Linked DNA regions of Homo sapiens. The protein of the gene in region 1 purifies or fractionates together with the protein of each later gene. This does not show direct contact. Each region holds a gene or a part of one and is shown on either strand. Other genes may lie near its edges. The genes, in order: PHIP, UBXN7 and NUMA1.

What was found.
Region 2: the proteins of PHIP (region 1) and UBXN7 purify together in Homo sapiens (affinity purification with mass spectrometry; 2 studies listed by BioGRID). This does not show direct contact.
Region 3: the proteins of PHIP (region 1) and NUMA1 purify together in Homo sapiens (affinity purification with mass spectrometry; 2 studies listed by BioGRID and IntAct, with this or other methods). This does not show direct contact.

What each region holds. Positions count from the first base shown.
Region 1 is NC_000006.12:78,935,112-78,942,424, reverse strand, and holds part of PHIP (PH-interacting protein), read left to right. Parts: intron 1-1,094; coding exon 1,095-1,732; 3' UTR 1,733-6,892; coding exon of another isoform or gene 6,893-6,964; 3' UTR 6,965-7,313.
Region 2 is NC_000003.12:196,422,338-196,429,650, reverse strand, and holds part of UBXN7 (UBX domain-containing protein 7), read left to right. Parts: intron 1-7,313. UniProt on the Homo sapiens protein: Ubiquitin-binding adapter that links a subset of NEDD8-associated cullin ring ligases (CRLs) to the segregase VCP/p97, to regulate turnover of their ubiquitination substrates.
Region 3 is NC_000011.10:72,007,230-72,014,542, reverse strand, and holds part of NUMA1 (nuclear mitotic apparatus protein 1), read left to right. Parts: coding exon 1-1,648; intron 1,649-2,100; coding exon 2,101-2,142; intron 2,143-3,688; coding exon 3,689-3,757; intron 3,758-5,155; coding exon 5,156-5,275; intron 5,276-5,357; coding exon 5,358-5,576; intron 5,577-5,697; coding exon 5,698-5,855; intron 5,856-6,342; exon of another isoform or gene 6,343-6,397; coding exon of another isoform or gene 6,398-6,451; exon of another isoform or gene 6,452-7,107; coding exon 7,108-7,313. UniProt on the Homo sapiens protein: Microtubule (MT)-binding protein that plays a role in the formation and maintenance of the spindle poles and the alignement and the segregation of chromosomes during mitotic cell division.

The DNA.
Region 1 (7,313 bases):
TGCAACCTCCGCCTCCTGGGTTCAAAGGATTCTCCTGCCTCAGCCCCCTGAGTAGCTGGGATTACAGGCACCCACCACCACGCCCAGCTACTTTTTGTACTTTTAGTAGAGACGGGGTTTCGCCATGTTGGCCAGGCTGGTCTCGAACTCCTGACCTCAGGTGATCCGCCCACTTTGGCCTCCCAGAGTGCTGGGATTATAATCGTGAGCCACTGCACCCGACCAACCATGATTTTCTTATTTACAAAGTACAGTTCCAACCTGTGACCAAAAATGCTGTTATGAAGATGTATTCTCTTTAAAAGCAGTTTCCATCTATGAATTTCCTCAAAAATAGAGCATTGCAAATCACCTACCATATCAAATAAAAACATGTCAGAAATTTGGAGGGAAAGAGAGTTAGTTACTGGTAGTTCCTGTGGCATATTTTTCCTTTATCTAAGTTATAGCATTTTTTTCTACAACAGAAAGGTAATTCATCATCTCCAGATCCTTCAGGTTTAGAATTTGATTGCCAGATTTTCTCTCCTGTTTTATGAAGCATAATGGCCTTTTATCATGGAGTTTGTTACAGTGGGATCTTAATCATGATAATGGTGGCACACATAGTGATTTTGATTGATATATATATATAATCAGTATTTCCTAGGATTATAGTCATTTGCCATTTATTACACAAGGAGATAGGACTTTTCAAAGCCTGTGAAAACTGCCATTTAGTTGTTTTTAAATCCTCTTTAAACAGTTCTAAGAACAAAGTTTTTGACCAAGAGTAACTTATTTCTAAGTTAGGAATAAGAAACCTTTAGTCATCCCAGCTTTATACTCAATCACAATGTTAACTTAGATAAGTCACTTATTTTCTATGAGCTTTACCTCCCTCATGAGATCGTTAAGAATCTGTCTCTTTTAATTAGAAAATAAATAAGATCATTGAACTATTAGTGTTTTCTAGGTTCTTTTTTCTCATTTTAATAAAATAATTTGGATTATGTCATTACATATAAGTATACCAATGGGGCCTTACTGACAAGTTTGAGAGTCAAACAAAAAAAGAAACTCCATATATTAAGTGTACTGTTGTTCCCTTTTAGGAGATTGTAAGAACAACGCTCTTGTACCAGGAACCATTCAAGTAAATGGCCATGGAGGACAGCCATCAAAACTTGTGAAGAGGGGACCTGGAAGGAAACCTAAAGTAGAAGTTAATACCAATAGTGGTGAAATTATACACAAGAAAAGGGGTAGAAAGCCCAAAAAGCTACAGTATGCAAAGCCAGAAGATTTAGAGCAAAATAATGTGCATCCCATCAGAGATGAAGTACTTCCTTCTTCAACATGCAATTTTCTTTCTGAAACTAATAATGTAAAGGAAGATTTGTTACAGAAAAAGAATCGTGGAGGTAGGAAGCCCAAAAGGAAGATGAAGACACAAAAATTAGATGCAGATCTCCTAGTCCCTGCAAGTGTCAAAGTGTTAAGGAGAAGTAACCGAAAAAAGATAGATGATCCTATAGATGAGGAAGAAGAGTTTGAAGAACTCAAAGGCTCTGAACCCCACATGAGAACTAGAAATCAAGGTCGAAGGACAGCTTTCTATAATGAGGATGACTCTGAAGAGGAGCAAAGGCAGCTGTTGTTCGAAGACACCTCTTTAACTTTTGGAACTTCTAGTAGAGGACGAGTCCGAAAGTTGACTGAAAAAGCAAAAGCTAATTTAATTGGTTGGTAACTTGTACCAAAATATTTTACTTCAAAATCTATAAAGCAGGTACAGTTAAGGAATAAGTAGAACTAAGGCTTCTGCTTCCTTGCTGCTGTGGTGGAGTAGGGAATGTTATGATTTGATTTGCAAAAAAAAAAAAAAAAAAAAAAACAAACTTACGAGACACTTCACTTCTTTAAATGAATATATATATATATATATAAATATATACATATATATTTTAAATGTTTGCTATTTATTGCCCTTAGATAGGTTATGCATTTTCACATTCATTTCATTCACTGTTTGAAACGAAAGAAATTGATCTATAATGAATTCCTGATTTATTTATAGAAAAGACAATTCTGCTACACTCTTTAGGAGCATAATATTCCTAGTGATAGAGCATTTCATGTTAAAATGAATTATTTTTGACCAAGTGAGGTACATTTCTATTGATACAAGTCATGCCCCTAAAAGATAGATGTTATACAGAGTAGCAGTGAATTAAGAAATGTTTCCTCTAAAAGATAAATATAAAATTTCCACCATTTGATACCCTAAACAGTTTAATTTTAATTATAGAATGTTCATCTACAAAGTATCTAGAGGAGGCTTTTGCTTTATTCCATTTCTGCCAAACAAGAGAAAATGTACTGATGAAGGGAAACATATCCACATTGGAAAACATTTGACTGTCTAATTTTTCAGACCTTGATTCTTATATCACTCAATCTCTGTTTATTGTGCCAAAGACTGAGAATCAGTGCAGTGGAAAGCCTGTTTTTGACGTCAGGACAGCATACACTTTTCAATATTGGAAAGGCTATATATTCTAAAGAGCAAGTTATTAAAGAGTTATGCTGAGATATATCTTTTTTTGGTACTAATAGAAAATAATGCACTGGTGGGTCCTTTGACAGAGATGTTCTAGAGGAAATGTTTAAGTGGTTAAAGGATTCAAGGAAAATACAGGAAAAAAGGTATGGGATTTGATGTTTACTTGTTGATCTGGATTAATGTCATTTCTAAACTTTAGACATATCTAATAGCCTAAAATGACTTACAAAGAAACGTGTCTGTGTGTGTATGTGTATATATTGATAAATGGGTATAATTAAATATATATACAAACACATACTTATATACTATTACCCAGGTATAAATTCTTTTTTCAGGATTTTTTAGATAGCAGTAGAATAAAAATAATTTTAAAATGTCATACTTTATAGTTTAATTTTAAGGGGGAAATTGGTTATTTTCAATTATTAAAGGTTAAAATAGGCCAAATCACTTTTTATGCAATCATGTTTTATACAGTGGTCTCATTGCACATTGTGTTTTTTCTGCACTTTTTACGGTATCCTTATCATGCTGGTATGTCAATATACACCCTAAAGAAAAACTCCATTTAATGATTGTGCCTTGTATTCTATTATTTTTTGCATCATTAGTAAAATTAAGTTGTCTATTGTAAATGATAACTATATGACTTAGGAGAATGTATTGCTATATGTACTGCTATGGAAAAGGAAAGCAGTTATTTATTTGTTTATGGTACAGTTAGTTATTTTATACCTTAAAAACCAACATACTTACCATTTCTATTGTTTAAAAATTACTGTCCATTTTTTTAAAAATTTAAAGAATGTAGTATTTTCTGAGGACTGGTATGGTACAAAAATGTAATCAAAATTTTCAGATACTACATTTTTAAAAAGTGAGGATGGGGAAAATATGTATCAGCATGACCCTGATGTAGAAAAATAAAGTCTGCAATTGAACCTTGGCAAAATACATTACATAATTATTTCTGATAAGGATAAATATTAGCTGTCATTTAACTGTCGTGAAGAATGAAAAAGTGATACATTTGGGCTTTTTAGATCATTTGTAACTAAATTTGTACAGAAATTCTCCTGTGAAATTAAGTAAACCATTTTCCAGATCTTGACTGCATTGCTGAGATTTTGCAGTTGAAAAATAATTTCAAATTTTTCAGGTTTTTTGTATATTTATTTTTTTCTAACAAATATATTTAACTATAAAATTAAAATTCAGTAGTTAAACTCTTCATAATGCAGAAATGGATGGCTTGATTGTATAGAAAAATGAGTCTTTCAGTTACACCATTCTTGAAAATAATAGTGTATGTTTGAAATTTGTCATTAATTAGTTGCTTTTGAAGGCAATCTATTTGAAATATGTAATTTCCTGATGTTATCTGCATTGTGTTAAGAAAAAAATAATAGGCTATAAAATCAATTTTTGTAAAAAAAATGTACAGTTTTAAGTTGTGTACAGAAAAAGGAAGAGCGTACACAGTCTTAGAGTGGAATATACCTCTAGTACAGTGTATGTGTTAATTCCAACTCAAGCAAAGAAATGAGTATTTACCATCTTTCCTATAACATGTAAATGTATTATTCCTGTTCTACAGACACTGTATATTTATGACCTTATTTGGACATTATTAGACACTGGTTTCTTAGTAAAGCACAGTAACTTGGATCAGATTCTTTGTAACCGAAACACTTAAACATGTATTAGTAATACCAATATATTTAGATTTTATATTTTTATAATTTAGCTTCTATGCATTACAGAAGTTGAATTAAGAAATTTAAGTCATCACCATATTTTTGTTTTCTTTACCACTTGGGAAAATAATCCTCTTTGAGGCAGTAACACTATGTATGTACTGTTAATAGGCCAGAAAGAAATATTGGCAGTTGTCTTAGGTAAGCAATAAAAACATCTCCAATTTACTGAAAGTTCAGAAATATAACTCTTACATGCATGGAAAGTGTAAACCAATTTAGGTATTTCTAAGTACCCAACCCTAGTATTCTCTCCCTCAACTCCAACATTCTCAAGTCCCAGATGAAAAGTTTCAGTGGAGCATTAGTTTAAATATTTAGTCTAATCAGAGACTCACAGCCCTGGGCAATAGATACATAGCTTTTTAAAATTTTATCCTTTGTGACCTGCTATAGTGGCATTGGACTATTTTCTGCATGTATTATAAACTAAAGATTGGCCTTATTTCAATTGTTTTTATTGCACAACTTCACTACAAATTTAAAGACTGCTGGCATTATTATAAAACTGTCTTCCTCCAATCCAAGTAAATAAGTATGTGGAATATTTGTGAGCTGGATTAGGTAACATCTGAGACTTGGGATTGACTAAATTTAGTTATCACTTGGAAATGAATTACATAAGATACAGTAATCAGAGAAAATATCTTTATGCAGCATGTATGTTAACATCTAGAACTGTCCCTCATCTGCAGTGCAGTAGAGGAATCAGACATTTTAAGAAATGTATTCAAATATTTTTATCTTATATGTTAGCAGCATTTACATGTTTTCAGATATGATTTGTAATATAAATTAATTTCTCCAGTTAACAATGTTTACTTCAATTCTGACATTCCATTTTATACATATATACCTACTGTATATCTCTCTCAAATGTCAGCTAGAAGCAACTTTTTCAGTTTTCTATCTAATGAAAACGGATATATTCTGAATGTTTTTGTTACCTGAAATTTATTTTTGAGTAGGTTGAAAGGACCAAGATACTTGAGTGATTAAAGGACTGTAAGTGTTCTGCTTATATGCAGGAGTTACATGATTTTAAAAGTCATAATAGGGGAAGTAGTTTTATCATCTGATTACTCCTATTAACCTAAAAAGTATTTCTAACATAACAGATTGAGCAGTGGTTTTGTTACACTTAGGCAAGAATTTATTTTCCCATTAAAATTTGAAAAATACACTTTTCTTTGCTTCTACCCTTGCAGTTTCCCTTAGTTCCCCTAATTTCCAAGTGATCTGAACTAAAATTAATATTACATTTACTAAGAAACTATTTTTGTTAATTATACTGAGCAAAGTTTGCTCCAAATGAAAAGTCATTACGAACTATGTATAGTACCCAAGAAAAGGTCAAATTGAGTCAGAAGACTGTAAGTACCACTTTTGGCGCTCCAGAGATAAACCTTGTACACACTGCAGTAGAACAGTGAGTAGAAAATATGAGCTATAAATAGATATTATTTTTAGTTTTGATAGCTCTGTGTTGAAATACTTTTTTAATGCAGATAAAAATTATCAGGAAATTAACCTTATGGCACAGACCAAATACTTAGTGCATGGCTGAGTTTCTACAATTCAAGGAGCCAAGAAAATAGGTTCAAGATGGAATATAGTACATGCATATAAGGCAGATGCACACATGCTGGTTACTTTAAGATTGTGTGTGTTGATTAGTCACAATGATAGACTATAACATGAGACAATACAAAGTTACATTTTTGGACCATATTAAAACTGCAAGAAGACAGGGGTCTTACTGAAGATCTTTTAGAAAACTTAAATCCTGTCACAGGATATTTAGACATGTGTAGAATGTAGCTCAATTTTTAAAAAGTAACTGACCTAGAGGGTGAAAGTTGAAACTGACACATTTTCAAATTAAGATTATGCTTATTTTGTACAGAAAACAATGTTTAAACACAAGCAGATCTGTTGTATGTAATAAGTAACACAGAGTTTTAAAACAAATTAATTATTTAGCTTTATTGAAGTTTGTTTTTTTCCTTCCGAACCTGGAGTATCATATTATAAACAGCAGTTTCACACCAGAATAGCAGTGCCCTTTCTTTTTGTACATACTGATTGGACCTTTCTTTACTGTTACGTGGACACTTTCTATGTTAGTTTTGATGCATAATTCTTTGAATCCTTTTATACAAACTAGAATGTATGTGTAAGAATACCTGTCCCTGCAATGTAGTAACTACAAACTTATTTTTAAATAAATAGAAAACTTGTTTTTCTAAGCTATTTTGTAGAGCCTCATGATTTATTATTTGCTTTTTAAAGTTTTTTGGCATCACATAAAGCACTTAGTACATAATCTCAACAAGCTGCTTACCAAAGTGGTCATATGGCAGATACCATTATGTAAATGCTGGTTCATTAGAGTTTCCAGTGCCCTGTGTGTTTTGCAAAGTGTGAAAACTGTCAGTTAAAAGATATTTGGGTGCCGAAATGTAATTTAATTCCAAAACAACTGAAGGTCAAAAACTTATATGCCTTTTTATGTGTACATTTAATAAAACAATTTTATTGATTTCTTACCGTAAGTTACTGTGATGAGTGATAAATACTTCACTATTCAGATACTTTCGTAAGAGATACATTTCAGTGGAACACTTTGCATAAATATTTTCTCAAAAATGTGCAATTTCTGGGAAAAAAGGAATGATGGAAAGAAGGTTATTGCAGTTTTCCTAGAAATTTTGTCAGATTGGCATGCATTTTTATTGACTAAGAATCCCAATTTTAGCATGAAGACCATTAGATATGAATACATAAGGCCATAACATTTCAAATTAAGCACATGGAGTGATTTGTAATTTTGTGTTAATTTCTCCCTAAGATGTTTTGTTAAAATGATTTTGTATATAATAAATTTCTAAGTTGAGGAAGGAAGGTAAAAAAAATTCCTGATAACCTTTTCTTTATGAAGTCTGCTAATAACAATACCTAGTATATACTTAGAAGAACCAGCCAAGAAAAATTACCTTTCAGCAACC
Region 2 (7,313 bases), on another chromosome or scaffold:
AGTGTTTATAATTAAAAGGTATTTTATATTTATTTTAGTGACCTTAATAGCTTATGCTCTGATTTCACAAAGGTTTTACTTGGAAGCTCAATATTCTTGTAAAAACAAATGCATCATCAAAAATGTGAGTCCTTACTTTTTAGGCAGGAGCAAAAAAAAGAAAAAGAAAAAATAAAAATAAATGTGAGTCTTATCTTTTTTTGGCATTTAGAAATAGAACGGAAAATTGAAAGATTTTAGAAAAGTCTTATTTCTTACTGAATAGAACAGATCTCTCTCTGATTCAGTGAGTATGAAATAATGACTGATGTTTTTTTTTTTTTTGAGACGGAGTCTCGCTCTGTCACCCAGGCTGGAGTGCAGTGGCGTGATGTTGGCTCACTGCAAGCTCTGCCTCCCAGGTTCACACCATTCTCGTGCCTCAGCCTCCCAAGTAGCTGGGACCACAGGCGCCTGCCACCACGCCTGGCTAATTTTTTGTATTTTTAGTAGAGACGGGGTTTCACCGTGTTATCTGGGATGGTCTCGATCTCCTGACCTCGTGATCCGCCTGCCTCGGCCTCCCAAAGTGCTGGGATTACACGTGTGAGCCACCGCGCCTGGCCTAATGACGGATTTTTGATTTTTTTTTTTTTTTTTTAAGAGATGGAGGTCTCCTCTCTTTGTTGCCCAAGCTGTTCTCCAGTTTCTGGGCTCAGCCATCCTCTTGCCTCAGCCCTCCCAGTAACTGGGGCTACAGGTGCACATCACTGTGCCTGGTTCAGTAATGGCTGATTAAAAAAGATTATTAAAAAGACAATATCATAAAAACTTTTTTTTTTTTTTTTGAGACGGACTGGGTCTCACACTGCCACCCAGACTAGAGTGCAGTGGTGTGATCACGGCTCACTGCAGCCTCTAGGGTAACTTTCTTTATTTTTTGTGGAGATGGGGTCTCACTTTGTTGTGCAGGCTGGTCTTGAACTCCTGGGCTCAAGCAATCCACCCACCTTGGCCTCCCAAAGTGCTGGGATTACAGGCGTGGGACACTGCACCTGGCCGAAATAATTTTGATAAAAGGGAAAAGAACTAATTCTCCTTCTCACAACAGCAATATTTATTTTACATATTATCTTCCACTTCTTGTTTATATGCTTATTTTTACATTGTGGATCATAGTATATACAATTTCTGAGATTTCTTTTTCTTTTTTTTTTTTTAAAGACGGTCTTGTTCTGTCACCCAGGCTGGAGTACAGTGGCACAATTATAGCTTGCTGCATCCTTACCGCCTGGGCTCAAGTGATTCTCCTGCCTCAGCCTCCAGAGCAGTTAAGACTACAGGCATGTGCCACCATGCCCAGCTAAAATACACGGTTCTGAAATTTTCACTTAACATTATGCTACAAACCTTTTTTGCATGGTCAGACTGATAAGCAGGTAGCCAAGAGAAGTGATGACCTTTGAAGTAACCACACTGAGAAGCTGTATACAGTATGGTTTACCATTGATGCTTGCTTTTTGTTTGTTTTTGTTTTTGTTTTTGTTTTCGACAGAATTTCACTCCGTCACCCAGGCTGGAGTGCAGTGGCATGATTTCGGCTCACTGCTGTCTCCGCCTCCTGGGTTCAAGCAGTTCTCCTGCTTCAGCCTCCGCAGTAGCTGGGATTACAGGCTCAAGCCACCATGCCCGTCTGATTTTTGTATTTTTAGTAGAGATGGAGTTTCACCATGTTGGGCAAGCTGGTCTCAAACTGACCTCAAGTGATCTGCCCTCCTCAGCCTCCCAAAGTGCTGGTATTATGGGCGTGAGCCACTGCAACCGGCCCCACTGATGCTTTCTGTGTCATTTAAAGCTACATAAGAAAACCAGTCTTGTTACTTTTATAGTCATTCCACATTTTACAATACTACTGTTTGATCTCCTCTGATATTTATCATACATGGCTTTGAATTACTGTTGAAAACTCAGAAGTCATATCAATTCTCAAAACATGAAGGAAAAATATGCAGCTGGATCTATTCTGAAAGAGCAATTTTTAAAAATGTTTTGAAGCCAGGTGCGGTGGCTCACGCCTGTAATCCCAGGCACTTTGGGAGGCCAAGGCGGGTGGATCACCGGAGGTCAGGAGCTTCAGACCAGTCTGGCCAACCTGGTGAAACCCTGTCTCTCCGAAAAATACAAAAATTAGCTGAGCATGGTGGTGCACGCCTGTAGTCCCAGCTACCCAGGAGGCTGAGGCAGGAGAATCTCGTGAACCCAGGAGACGGAGGTTGCAGTGAGCCGAGATCCAGCCACTGCACTCCAGCCTGGGCGACAGAGCGAGACTCTGTCTCCAATTTTAGTATATGTGCTGCTGAAGCGAGCACAGAGCGAGACCCTGTCTCAAAAAAAGAAAAAGTAAATAAAAGTAAAAATGTTTTGAGCCATGGCAGTATTCCATTAGCACCAACTTTGGGCTGACATCCACTACACATATACACTGGTGCACATGTGTAATCAGAATAATTCATGGAGTGAAGGTGAGGGATACATAGACACTATAGAACAGGTGAAAAATAAGCTAGCAGTCTAAGGACAAATGTGAGGGCATAGAAAGTGGAGGCTAAGAAGAGTACAAGAGGTTACTGGTACGGAAATTCATAGAGCTTTGTGCATAGCGGCAATAACATACTTGAGAAAATTATAGAACCTCAGTTGTAGAAGAGACCTTAATCTTTCAGATGGTTGATGAGTGCATATTTATTATAAAAATTAGGGGCTGTCATGTTTGTGGTATTTAACTTTATGGCCAATTTCCATTCATGTTCTTTTTTTTTTTTTTGAGACAGAGTCTCACTCTGTGGCCCAGGCTGGAGTGCAAAGGTACGATCTTGGCTCACTGCAGCCTCCACCTCCCGGGTTCAAGCGATTCTCCTGTCTCAGCCTCCTGAGTAGCTGGGATTACAGGCATGCGCCACCACGCCCGGCTCATTTTGTATTTTTAGTAGAGACGGGGTTTCTCCATTTTGGTCAGGCTGGTCTCGAACTCCCGACCTCAGGTGATCCTCCTGCTTCGACCTCCCAAAGTGCTGGGATTACCGGTGTGAACCACCGCGCCTGGCCTCATTCATATGCTTTTGTACAGAACATTTCCTTTCTCTTGGGTTAATATTAAACTATGATTAAGTTCTCTGTGTCTGGAAAGGTGGTCACAGTATTATAGATGTTAAGAGAAAACTTCAGGAATTTTAAGAATAGTTTCAATAGGGAATACATTTCAGAATTTCTTTTTTTTTTTTTTTTTGAGACGAAGTCTTATCCTGTCACCCAGGCTGGAGTGCAGTGCTGTGATCTTGGCTCATTGCAACCTCCGCCTCCCCGGTTCAAGTGATTCTCCTGCCTCAGCCTCCTGAGCAGCTGGGACCACAGATGCGCGTCACGACACCCAGCTAAATTTTTTGTATTTTTAATGGAGATGGGGTTTCATCTTGTTGGCGAGGCTGGTCTCAAACTCTTGACCTCAGGTGATCCACCCACCTCAGCCTCCCAAAGCGCTGGGATTACAGGCTTGAGCCACCATGCCTGGCTGAAGTTTCAGAAATTTAAGGGAGGTAATTTTGAGTTGCGAATGGAATCTTACTAGTAGATTCATTTATTGGTAGACTGCTACGTGCCAGGCATGGTTCACATCTTAAGGATACAACTGTGAGCAAGGCGTGGTGTCTGTCCTCAGAAAGCTTAAAGGTTAACAGGAATAGAGACACACGAATAGGTATTAGAATACAGTGAGAGAATGGTAAGGAGCTAATACTGGAGCACAAAAGAGGGAGGTCAAGAAAACCTTCCCAGAATAAATACTTTTTTATCTAAAATCTGGAAGATGTTTCTTGCAGGAGAAACATGCAGAGACTTGGAGGGGAATTGGGCAGACATGTATACAGACAGAGATGAGAGAGGGGAGACAATCGGTTTAGGGAATTGATAATTCCAAATGAGTAAAGCACAGCTAGTGCAATAAATGGACCTCAAGAGATAAATGGGAGATTGGGTTGGGCCTTATAAGCCATGTTAAAAAAAATCTTGTCTTTATTCTGAGAATAGTGGGGAGTCAAGGGTTTTAATTAGAGGAGTGAGACTGGGCACTGTGGCTCACACCTATAATTCCCGCACTTTGGGAGGCTGAGGTGGGAGGCCTGGAGCTTGAGATCAGCCTAGGCAACATAGTGAGACCCCATCTCTACAAAATGTATTAAAATTTTATTTATTAAAAAAGGAGTTACATCTGATTTGACCTTTTTTTTTTTTTTAAAGAAAGAGTTACTTGGCTATAATGGAGAAGAGATAGGCACAGAGATCAGTAGAAGGCTGTTATATTAACCCAAGAAAGATAGTGGTGTCCTGAAAAAAGTTAGTGGCGGAGAAGTGGACTCCAAAAGGTATGGGAAGAAATCAGAGTCAAAATGAAGTTTAGGATTCTGTTTTGGACACCTAGGTATGTAACAGTGCTATTTATGAAGGTATGGAATAGCAGAAAGGTGTGGGGAGAAGATGGTTAGCTCAGTTTTGGATAAGTTAAGGTGCTGCTAATAGGACTTCCAGATGGAGCTGTTGAAGCAGATGAATATTTGGGTCTAGAAAGAAGAGTGAGAAATCTGTCATATTCATGGCAGTTAAAGTTATAAAAATGGGGCTAGGTGCGGTGGTTCACACCTGGAATCCCAGCACTTTGGGAGGCCGAGGCGAGTGGATCACCTGAGGTCAGGAGTTTGAGACCAGCCTGACCAACATGGTGAAACCCCGTCTCTACTAAAAATACAAAACTAGCCGGGCATGGTGGTGTGTGCCTGTAATCCCAGCTACTCAGGAGGCTGAGGCAGGAGAATTGCTTGAACCTGGAAGGCGGAGGTTGCAGTGAGCTGAGATCACGCCATTGCACTCCAGCCTGGGCGACAGCGAGACTCTGTCTCAAAAAAAAAAAAAAAAAAAGGTTATAAAAATGGATGAGGCGAGGCCTAGTGGCTCACACCGGTAATCCCAGCACTTTGGAATGCCAAGGTGGAAGGATTGCTTGAGGCCAGAAATTCAAGACCAGCTTGGGCAACATAGCAAAGAGCCTGTTTCTACAAAAAGTAAAAAAAAATTAACTGGGCCTGGTGGTGTGCACCTGTAATCCTGGTTGACTTGGGAAGATTGCTTGAACCCAGAACTTTGAGGCTGCAGTGAACTATGCTCCTGCTGCTATACTCCAGCCTGGGTGACAGAGAGAGACCTTGTCTCTTAAAAAAAAAAAAAAAAAAAAAAAAAAATTAGGAAAAGAGAAAGGATGGCATCTTGCAGGAGGGAGTGTAGTGTGGGAAATAGTAGACTCCAGGACACAATGCTGAAGGAACACCAACATCCGGGGGACTGCAAAGAAGAAAGTGCAGAGAAGACTCAGGAAAAACCAAAGATGTAGGAGGAAAACCAGGAGAGTATCATGGCACTTAAAGCATCAGGAGTGGCCACGTGTGGTGGCTCATGCCTGTAATCCCAGCACTTTGGGAGGTTGAGGCAGGTGGATCACATGAGATCAGGAGTTTGAGACCAGCCTGGCCAATATGGTGAAACCCTGTCTCCACTAAAAATACAAAAAATGAGCCGGGCATGGTGGTGGGCACCTGTAATCCCAGCTACTCGGGAGGCTGAGGCAGGTGAATCGCTGGAACCCGGGAGTCAGAGGTTGCAGAGAGCCAAGATCTTGCCACTGCACTCCAGCCTGGGCAAGAGAGTGTGACTCTGTCTCAAAAAAAAAAAAAAAAAAAGTGAAAAATTATTTTGTAAATGGAATAATTAGTCTCTAATTAGTCCTTTGTTTAGCTAACACAATTAGCTTCAAGATGGCTCTCTTCTGTCCCTGTGGTGCTTCAGAATCTTAGAGTTGATAAAATTCACATCCATGCAGGACTTTAAGTGCCCCAAGGTACTTTGGGTTTATCCACTCACCTTGTCAAGTGGATAAGTCAGATGGGGGTTGGAGGCCAGGCAGATAAGCAACTTGTCTCCAAGACTGGGATTGTCCTGCTATGCCCCACCTTATGCTCCCTGAGGCTCTGAGCTGAGTTTCAGGCCTCTGCCATGTCCCCACTCTTCCATGACCCAGCTCCACAGTTTCCCAAGGATACAGTGAAGCCAGCTGGCACCTAATGGTCAGGCAGGAGGGGAACAAGTACCCCAAGCCCCATCACAGCCAAGAAAAGAGGCACAGTGGCCAGGCCACAATCTGGAGCGGATGAGGGGGCCAGCTCCACAGAGGGTCCATTGGCCCACACAGGCACTGTCCACATGCTCCTCTCAGGGACCGGCTTGTTGGAGGGCTTGTTGCCAATGTTCTTATACGTGGTAGATACTCAGTAAATGTTTGCTGGCGTGGAAACACTTACATGTTGCGGTGACCTGCCAGTTTAGCCCACATGCCTGGCCTTCCGCCCTCCCCAGGGCAGCTGTGCCTCAGCCGCTTGTGGTAGAGATGATCCCCAGACCAGGTGGTGACTGGCCCCGCTAGGTTGGGCTGTTGTGTCCTCTGGTTATGGCTTGATCAGGCTGGCATGCAGCCAGGCGAGGACTTGGCGGGCTGGGCTGCCCATAGCCTAGTCTGTTTTTAGTCTCCTGTTTTCCAGAATGTCATGTAAGTGTAATCACAATATGTAACCTTTTGAGTCTGGCTTCTTGCTCTTAAACTATTGTGTTTGAGATTCATTCATGTTGTCATGGTTAGTAGTTCCTTCCTATTTATTGGGGAATAGTATACCATTGTATGGTTGTACTGTGGTTTGTTTATGCATTTATCAAATGAAGGACACTTTCCAGTTTGGGGACATTATAAATAAAGCTGCCAAAAACAGTCGTGTACAAGTGTGTGAATATCTTTTGATAAATACCTAGGAGTGTGTTTATTGGATCATATAATAATAGTTATATTAACTTTCTAAGAAGCTGACAAATAATTTGTGACTTTCTGGTATAGTGACTTTCCAAAGTCACTTTGGAAAGTATAGTGGCTTTGAGAGGCTGATGCGGGAGGATTGCTCTAGGCCAGGAATTTGACGCCAACCTGGACAACAAAGAGAGACCCCCACATCTGTATTAAAAAATAGTAATAAAAGAGAGTTCCAGTTGTTCTGCATTCTTTCCATCATTTGGTATTTTTAATTGTCTTTTTTTTTTTTCTTTTGAGACAAGATCTCATTCTCTTGCCCCTGGTGGAGTGCAGCCGTGTTATCATAGCTCACTGCAGCCTCAAGCTCCTGGGGTCAATAATCCTCCTGCCTCAGCCTCCTGAGTAGCTGGGACTACAGGCACACACCACCATGCCC
Region 3 (7,313 bases), on another chromosome or scaffold:
GCTGATGGAGAGCCAGGGGCAGCAGCAGGAGGAGCGTGGGCAGCAGGAAAGGGAGGTGGCGCGGCTGACCCAGGAGCGGGGCCGTGCCCAGGCTGACCTTGCCCTGGAGAAGGCGGCCAGAGCAGAGCTTGAGATGCGGCTGCAGAACGCCCTCAACGAGCAGCGTGTGGAGTTCGCTACCCTGCAAGAGGCACTGGCTCATGCCCTGACGGAAAAGGAAGGCAAGGACCAGGAGTTGGCCAAGCTTCGTGGTCTGGAGGCAGCCCAGATAAAAGAGCTGGAGGAACTTCGGCAAACCGTGAAGCAACTGAAGGAACAGCTGGCTAAGAAAGAAAAGGAGCACGCATCTGGCTCAGGAGCCCAATCTGAGGCTGCTGGCAGGACAGAGCCAACAGGCCCCAAGCTGGAGGCACTGCGGGCAGAGGTGAGCAAGCTGGAACAGCAATGCCAGAAGCAGCAGGAGCAGGCTGACAGCCTGGAACGCAGCCTCGAGGCTGAGCGGGCCTCCCGGGCTGAGCGGGACAGTGCTCTGGAGACTCTGCAGGGCCAGTTAGAGGAGAAGGCCCAGGAGCTAGGGCACAGTCAGAGTGCCTTAGCCTCGGCCCAACGGGAGTTGGCTGCCTTCCGCACCAAGGTACAAGACCACAGCAAGGCTGAAGATGAGTGGAAGGCCCAGGTGGCCCGGGGCCGGCAAGAGGCTGAGAGGAAAAATAGCCTCATCAGCAGCTTGGAGGAGGAGGTGTCCATCCTGAATCGCCAGGTCCTGGAGAAGGAGGGGGAGAGCAAGGAGTTGAAGCGGCTGGTGATGGCCGAGTCAGAGAAGAGCCAGAAGCTGGAGGAGAGGCTGCGCCTGCTGCAGGCAGAGACAGCCAGCAACAGTGCCAGAGCTGCAGAACGCAGCTCTGCTCTGCGGGAGGAGGTGCAGAGCCTCCGGGAGGAGGCTGAGAAACAGCGGGTGGCTTCAGAGAACCTGCGGCAGGAGCTGACCTCACAGGCTGAGCGTGCGGAGGAGCTGGGCCAAGAATTGAAGGCGTGGCAGGAGAAGTTCTTCCAGAAAGAGCAGGCCCTCTCCACCCTGCAGCTCGAGCACACCAGCACACAGGCCCTGGTGAGTGAGCTGCTGCCAGCTAAGCACCTCTGCCAGCAGCTGCAGGCCGAGCAGGCCGCTGCCGAGAAACGCCACCGTGAGGAGCTGGAGCAGAGCAAGCAGGCCGCTGGGGGACTGCGGGCAGAGCTGCTGCGGGCCCAGCGGGAGCTTGGGGAGCTGATTCCTCTGCGGCAGAAGGTGGCAGAGCAGGAGCGAACAGCTCAGCAGCTGCGGGCAGAGAAGGCCAGCTATGCAGAGCAGCTGAGCATGCTGAAGAAGGCGCATGGCCTGCTGGCAGAGGAGAACCGGGGGCTGGGTGAGCGGGCCAACCTTGGCCGGCAGTTTCTGGAAGTGGAGTTGGACCAGGCCCGGGAGAAGTATGTCCAAGAGTTGGCAGCCGTACGTGCTGATGCTGAGACCCGTCTGGCTGAGGTGCAGCGAGAAGCACAGAGCACTGCCCGGGAGCTGGAGGTGATGACTGCCAAGTATGAGGGTGCCAAGGTCAAGGTCCTGGAGGAGAGGCAGCGGTTCCAGGAAGAGAGGCAGAAACTCACTGCCCAGGTAAGGTACTCAGCCCAACCACCCTCCCAAAGATCAGGAGCTGAGAGCGCGGGGACATCGATCCTCTGTGTCCAGGGCCTCTAGCTCCTACACTGGAGTGTCTTGCCTTTCCTCATTCACTGGGTGGCAGAAAAGGAGAGGTGGCTGGTGGAGTTCAAGTCTGTTGCCCCTGTCATCCTAAAGAAAATGTCAGTGGCCTCCCCTCCCCTGAAGGCTCTGTCACTAGAGAGTCAAGTTGTGATGACCACCAGCCTGTTCAGAGGCACACCTGCACTGGATGCCTCAGGAGCCACTGGGGATTAGAATCAGCCTAACTGGCATTTTTAAACTTACTGTCAATCTAGCTCCTTAGGGGAAAGTATCAGAGCCTCAGTGAGGTCAGCCTGGCAGCAGGGCTGGTGCTTCTTTGGCCTCATCTCACTCTGTCTCTGTTGCTCCTCCCCCATGTACAGGTGGAGCAGCTAGAGGTATTTCAGAGAGAGCAAACTAAGCAGGTAATGCCTGAGGTCCTCGCTAAATGCTGGCTGCTTAAACGGTGACCAGTCTTGGTGCATGAGCCCGGCTGCAGCTTGCCTCCGCCAGCTCCTGTTGTGAACTGTTTGTGAAGGGGGCAGGGTCAAGCCATGGAATCCAGGCCCAGGCTGCCCAGGAGTGTGGTGTGCTGGGCTCTCTCAGGCCTCATCCCACCCATCCCAGGTCGGCCTCTCCACCCTTCTGCACCTTCTCTCATTTGCCTATCAGGGACAAGGGGTAGCACTGGCTTCATCTTTCCCACCCTGAACCAATGACAGACACAATCCTTGGGATTCGAGAACTTCCCAAGTACTGTGTCTAGTTAAGGATACCCGACTAAGAGGAACAGCAGAATTACCGTGTCGGCCTTGTTTAACATGGTGTCCCTTTTTCCCAGAGTACAGCTTTATGGAAGCCTTGAAGGTGATATGCGAGGCAGCCCCCACAGGTTAGGGAGGATTGTGGGCTTAGGACACTTGCCCATCACTTTCTGGGGCTCTAACCCCGAGCACAGCATAGAGATGTCTGTAGCAGGAAGACCGAGGGTGAAGGAGCAGGAGGGGTCTATACCAGATGGGGGCGGGGGAGTGGGGGTCACATGGTCTGGCTGCCTCTTTCTCATGGGAATCATCTCTGTGTTGCCTGAGACATCGAGGCTATAGAGCTGGTGTTTCTGAGACATCGAGGCTATAGAGCACCCTTTCTCCATCACTCTCCTACCCAGCCACCCCAGGGCTGCTGAAAAATTGGGCCCTCCTCTAAGGAGCCTGTGATAGTGGGGGACAATCAAAGTGAATAGCAAACAGTTAGCAATGGAGCCCTTGCCTCTCCCCTGTGCTGCCTGGTCATGCTTGAACTCCCAGAATGCTTGGAGCAGCCAAGGGTGCATGGGGCTGTTATGTTCTCTCTTTTCCCCTACTCCCTGTGCTCTTCCTCTTTGTAGGAGTGGGGTGGGCTTTGGAGTACATGTGCTGCCCCTGCTCTTGTCTTCCAGCAATCTGTTCCCCAATGCTAACCACAGCAGCCATGCTGCTAGCACCAGCCCTAACGGCCTGTGGATGTTGGGAAGAGGTCTGAGCATCTGTGGGCTTGGGCTTTGGCAGTTTCTGGGAGGGAGGCATGGGAATTCATTGAGTATGTCTACTAGAATTACAGACTAGGTCCTGGGAAGGTTGCGGCTGCAGAGTGTGGCGGCAGCAAGGTGGTGGTGAGGTGTCGGCTCCCCAGAGTCAATTCTCCTGATTTTGGAGGTGACGGGGGTTGGGCAGGCCTCTGTCTCTGCAGGCTCAGGGTAGACGCAAGAACAGTTGGCCCTGGCAACATCTATGTGTTAGGTTGCCTCATTCAGGCCCTGCCAAGCAGCCTGGGCAGCAGGCTGTTCCGTAATTGGAGGCCAGAGAAAGGGCCTGAGTTTATTCTAGGAACACTGGGGATCCTGGTCTGGGAAACCCCATGATGGGTGGACATCCAGGATGAACATCCAGGGGAAGTCCTCCTGAGTCTTCTGTCCTCCTCTTCCCTCCCCAGGTGGAAGAACTGAGTAAGAAACTGGCTGACTCTGACCAAGCCAGCAAGGTGCAGCAGCAGAAGCTGAAGGTGGGGCAGCTGGGGGAATGGGTCTGGCCTCTGGACAAGGGAGGGAAGCTATTCTCTAAGCTCTGGGGCCGTGGGGGGTGTCGGGGCAGAAGAGGGGCACCCTGCATTCCAGGTAGCCCTCCTAGGAAGCCTGTGGCTTAGAAGCCCCTGCATGTGTCTTCTGGGAGCTCTCGAGAGACAACCAGGGTGGTTCCCATCTCTCAACTGTCACTGTCCACTTCAGCAGCTACTAGTCACGTGTGGTTATTGAAATTTATTAAAGTAAATCCAGTTCTTCAATCACACTAGCTACACTGTGCCCCTGTTCAGTAGCTACATGTGGTTAGTGGCTGCTGTATTGGACAGCGCAGATACAGAACATTCCACCATTGCATAAAGTTCTTTTGGACAATGTAAGTCTAGATAGTCTGGGCAGGGAAAGAACGAGAGTGTCACCAGTGTTGAATATTACAGTGCAGTTTAATAACATTCTTAATGCTTTCAACTGTGTCACCTTCTTTGGTTTAATACTTGCTTTTTGCAGTTCTAGGCTTCACAGCCTTCAGTCAGGGGCAAAGGAATTGGGCACCAGTGGCATTGGGACTCACTAAAGCCCTGGTGGCTCCTAGGAGTTGTTGGGAGCTCAGAGCTTCATTTCTCCTGCTCACCTTCATACCATGGTGCCACAGCATGTCTTGATTGCAATAAACAAATGTTTATTCTACTCCTTGTGGGGCCTGTCCTATGTTAGGAGAGGCAAAGGGGGGATGCTTCTATCTACAGCAAAGCACTTGTTGGCCTTGCAGATGGACAGAGAATCAGGCCCTGCTCTTAAGGAGTTATGGTCTGGACAGGAGGCAGTGTGGGCATCATAAATAAGCCCCCATGGGCTTTTGGAGTTAGGTGGACCAAATCTTACTCTGCCATTTAGTCACTGTTACTCTGGTCAATTTGCTTAAATCTCTGAACTCAGTTTCCTCCTCTGAAAAGAGGGTGAAGTGACTTCTCAGAGTGGCTTTGAGGAGAAACAAGTTCCCCTGTCCTAAGAGAGCTCACATGCCAAGTGCCTTAGAGTAAGGCTCTGCACCTGGGTGTTCCCTGAGGATTGGTTCCCTTCCTCCTACGGGAGATTGTGCATGCAAAGAGGGTGTGACACTTTGTGTCTGGTCTCAAAGAAGGCAAAGATAGGGCAGGAGCTGGTCAGGGAAAGGCCACTACGGATGTGGACTGAAGGGCATGTGGGCTTCAGGTTTAGTAGACTGTAGTCGGGCAGAGAGTATTTGGGGTGGTGTGGTTTTCTTCCGCTTCCTAAGAAAGTGCAGGAGTCTGAAGCACCTGTGGAGCCCCAGTGGCTGGTGCAGATAAGCGGACTTGGGTAGAGCGGCCAGACCAGCTTTCCTGAGTGGCCTTTCTTCTCAGGCTGTCCAGGCTCAGGGAGGCGAGAGCCAGCAGGAGGCCCAGCGCCTCCAGGCCCAGCTGAATGAACTGCAAGCCCAGTTGAGCCAGAAGGAGCAGGCAGCTGAGCACTATAAGCTGCAGGTAAGGAGCCCAGCCCCAGCCCATGCCACCTTCCTCCTGCCCTTCAACCTCTACCCCACCCACCCACCCTCTCTGCCCACAGATGGAGAAAGCCAAAACACATTATGATGCCAAGAAGCAGCAGAACCAAGAGCTGCAGGAGCAGCTGCGGAGCCTGGAGCAGCTGCAGAAGGAAAACAAAGAGCTGCGAGCTGAAGCTGAACGGCTGGGCCATGAGCTACAGCAGGCTGGGCTGAAGACCAAGGAGGCTGAACAGACCTGCCGCCACCTTACTGCCCAGGTGCGCAGCCTGGAGGCACAGGTAAGAATTTGGCTGGCAGACTCACCTCACTCCTATTCCACTGGACCCCTGTGCCCTCTCCTCCTAGGCCACTGCTGCCTTAGGCTTTTCTTCACTCTCCCCCTGGCCCTCTCCTTCTCAGGTTGCCCATGCAGACCAGCAGCTTCGAGACCTGGGCAAATTCCAGGTGGCAACTGATGCTTTAAAGAGCCGTGAGCCCCAGGCTAAGCCCCAGCTGGACTTGAGTATTGACAGCCTGGATCTGAGCTGCGAGGAGGGGACCCCACTCAGTATCACCAGGTCAGGAGGCAGCCTTCCTCCCTATGTCTGTTTATGGAGTGCCTGCTGTTTATCAGGCTGTATCCTAGTGAGATAAATAAGATGTGATCTAAATTTATTCTTAGAGAAGAATAACGAAAAACGGGTATTATACCAGATATCTATTTAGGGCACAGTTGGAATAAAAAGCAAGTGGTCAAGAAAGGCTTCGTGGAAGCTATCGCTCCTGCTGAGTCTTGAAAGCATCCATAGGTGTGTGTGCCAGGTTGACGAGAAGAGCAGTGTGAACAGAGGCTGTGAAAGAGCCTGACTAAGCTGAGATGTGAGGCCAGGAAGGCCCATTGGAGACCGACTATTAAGACTTGATCCTAAAGGCATTGAGGAAACCTTGGTGGCTGTAATTGAAAGGTTTAGGAGAAAAAAAAAGGAACCTTGGAAGAATTTGAAACTGAAGAGTACATGGTTAATTTGCATCTTAAAAAGATTATTCTAATAGCTAGTATAGAAGTTAAGACTGGAAAAATGTTTTTATTAAACACTTACATTTACTTATTTTGTGCTAGACATAAAGCACTCATGACAATTATACCTGATTTGTCCCCCAACAACCCTCTGAGGTAGGTTTATTCTGTCTCCTTTAACAGATGAATCTGGGGCATAGAGGGGCAGTCACTTGCCCAAGGTTCCCCAGTGGTAGAGCTGGGGTTTGACCCTGGGCAGCCTGGCCTGAGTTCTTGGCTTGTCACCACTCATCTTCCTCTGTCAGTGCCATGATGAGTCTAGGTGAGAGGAGATGAAGCAGACCAGGGAAAGGACATGAGCATGGAGTGGGGTGTGGTTAGGAGCTGTTCAGGAAGCTTGGTGATTGGGCTCGCCAAGCAGGACGACATTGGATTATGCCCACGTTCATGGCTTGGGGGCCTGAGTGGGGGGCGTTCCTATTCACTGAAATGGGAGATGCAGGAGGAAGAACAGAGAAGTGGGCTTAGATTGGGACGTGTTTGCTGTGAAGCAGCCATGGGCATCTGGTGGGGATGGGACATCTGGGTCTGGGCATTGCCACTATGAGGAGCTATTAGGAGAAGCCAGGGGAGTGGACTGAAAGGAAGGCCCAGGTCAAGTGCTTTCCTTGGTACCTCTGAAAAATCAGAGAGATGGGCTGCTTGACCTCATCTGCTTGTAGTAAGGATGGGAAATGGTCACTTTCAAAAAGGGCTGGACAAAATGCCTTCTAGCGTGAAGGACTGTACCTCAGCAGGTTTCCTTTCCATAGCAAGCTGCCTCGTACCCAGCCAGACGGCACCAGCGTCCCTGGAGAACCAGCCTCACCTATCTCCCAGCGCCTGCCCCCCAAGGTAGAATCCCTGGAGAGTCTCTACTTCACTCCCATCCCTGCTCGGAGTCAGGCCCCCCTGGAGAGCAGCCTGGACTCCCTGGGAGACGTCTTCCTGGACTCGGGTCGTAAGACCCGCTCCGCTC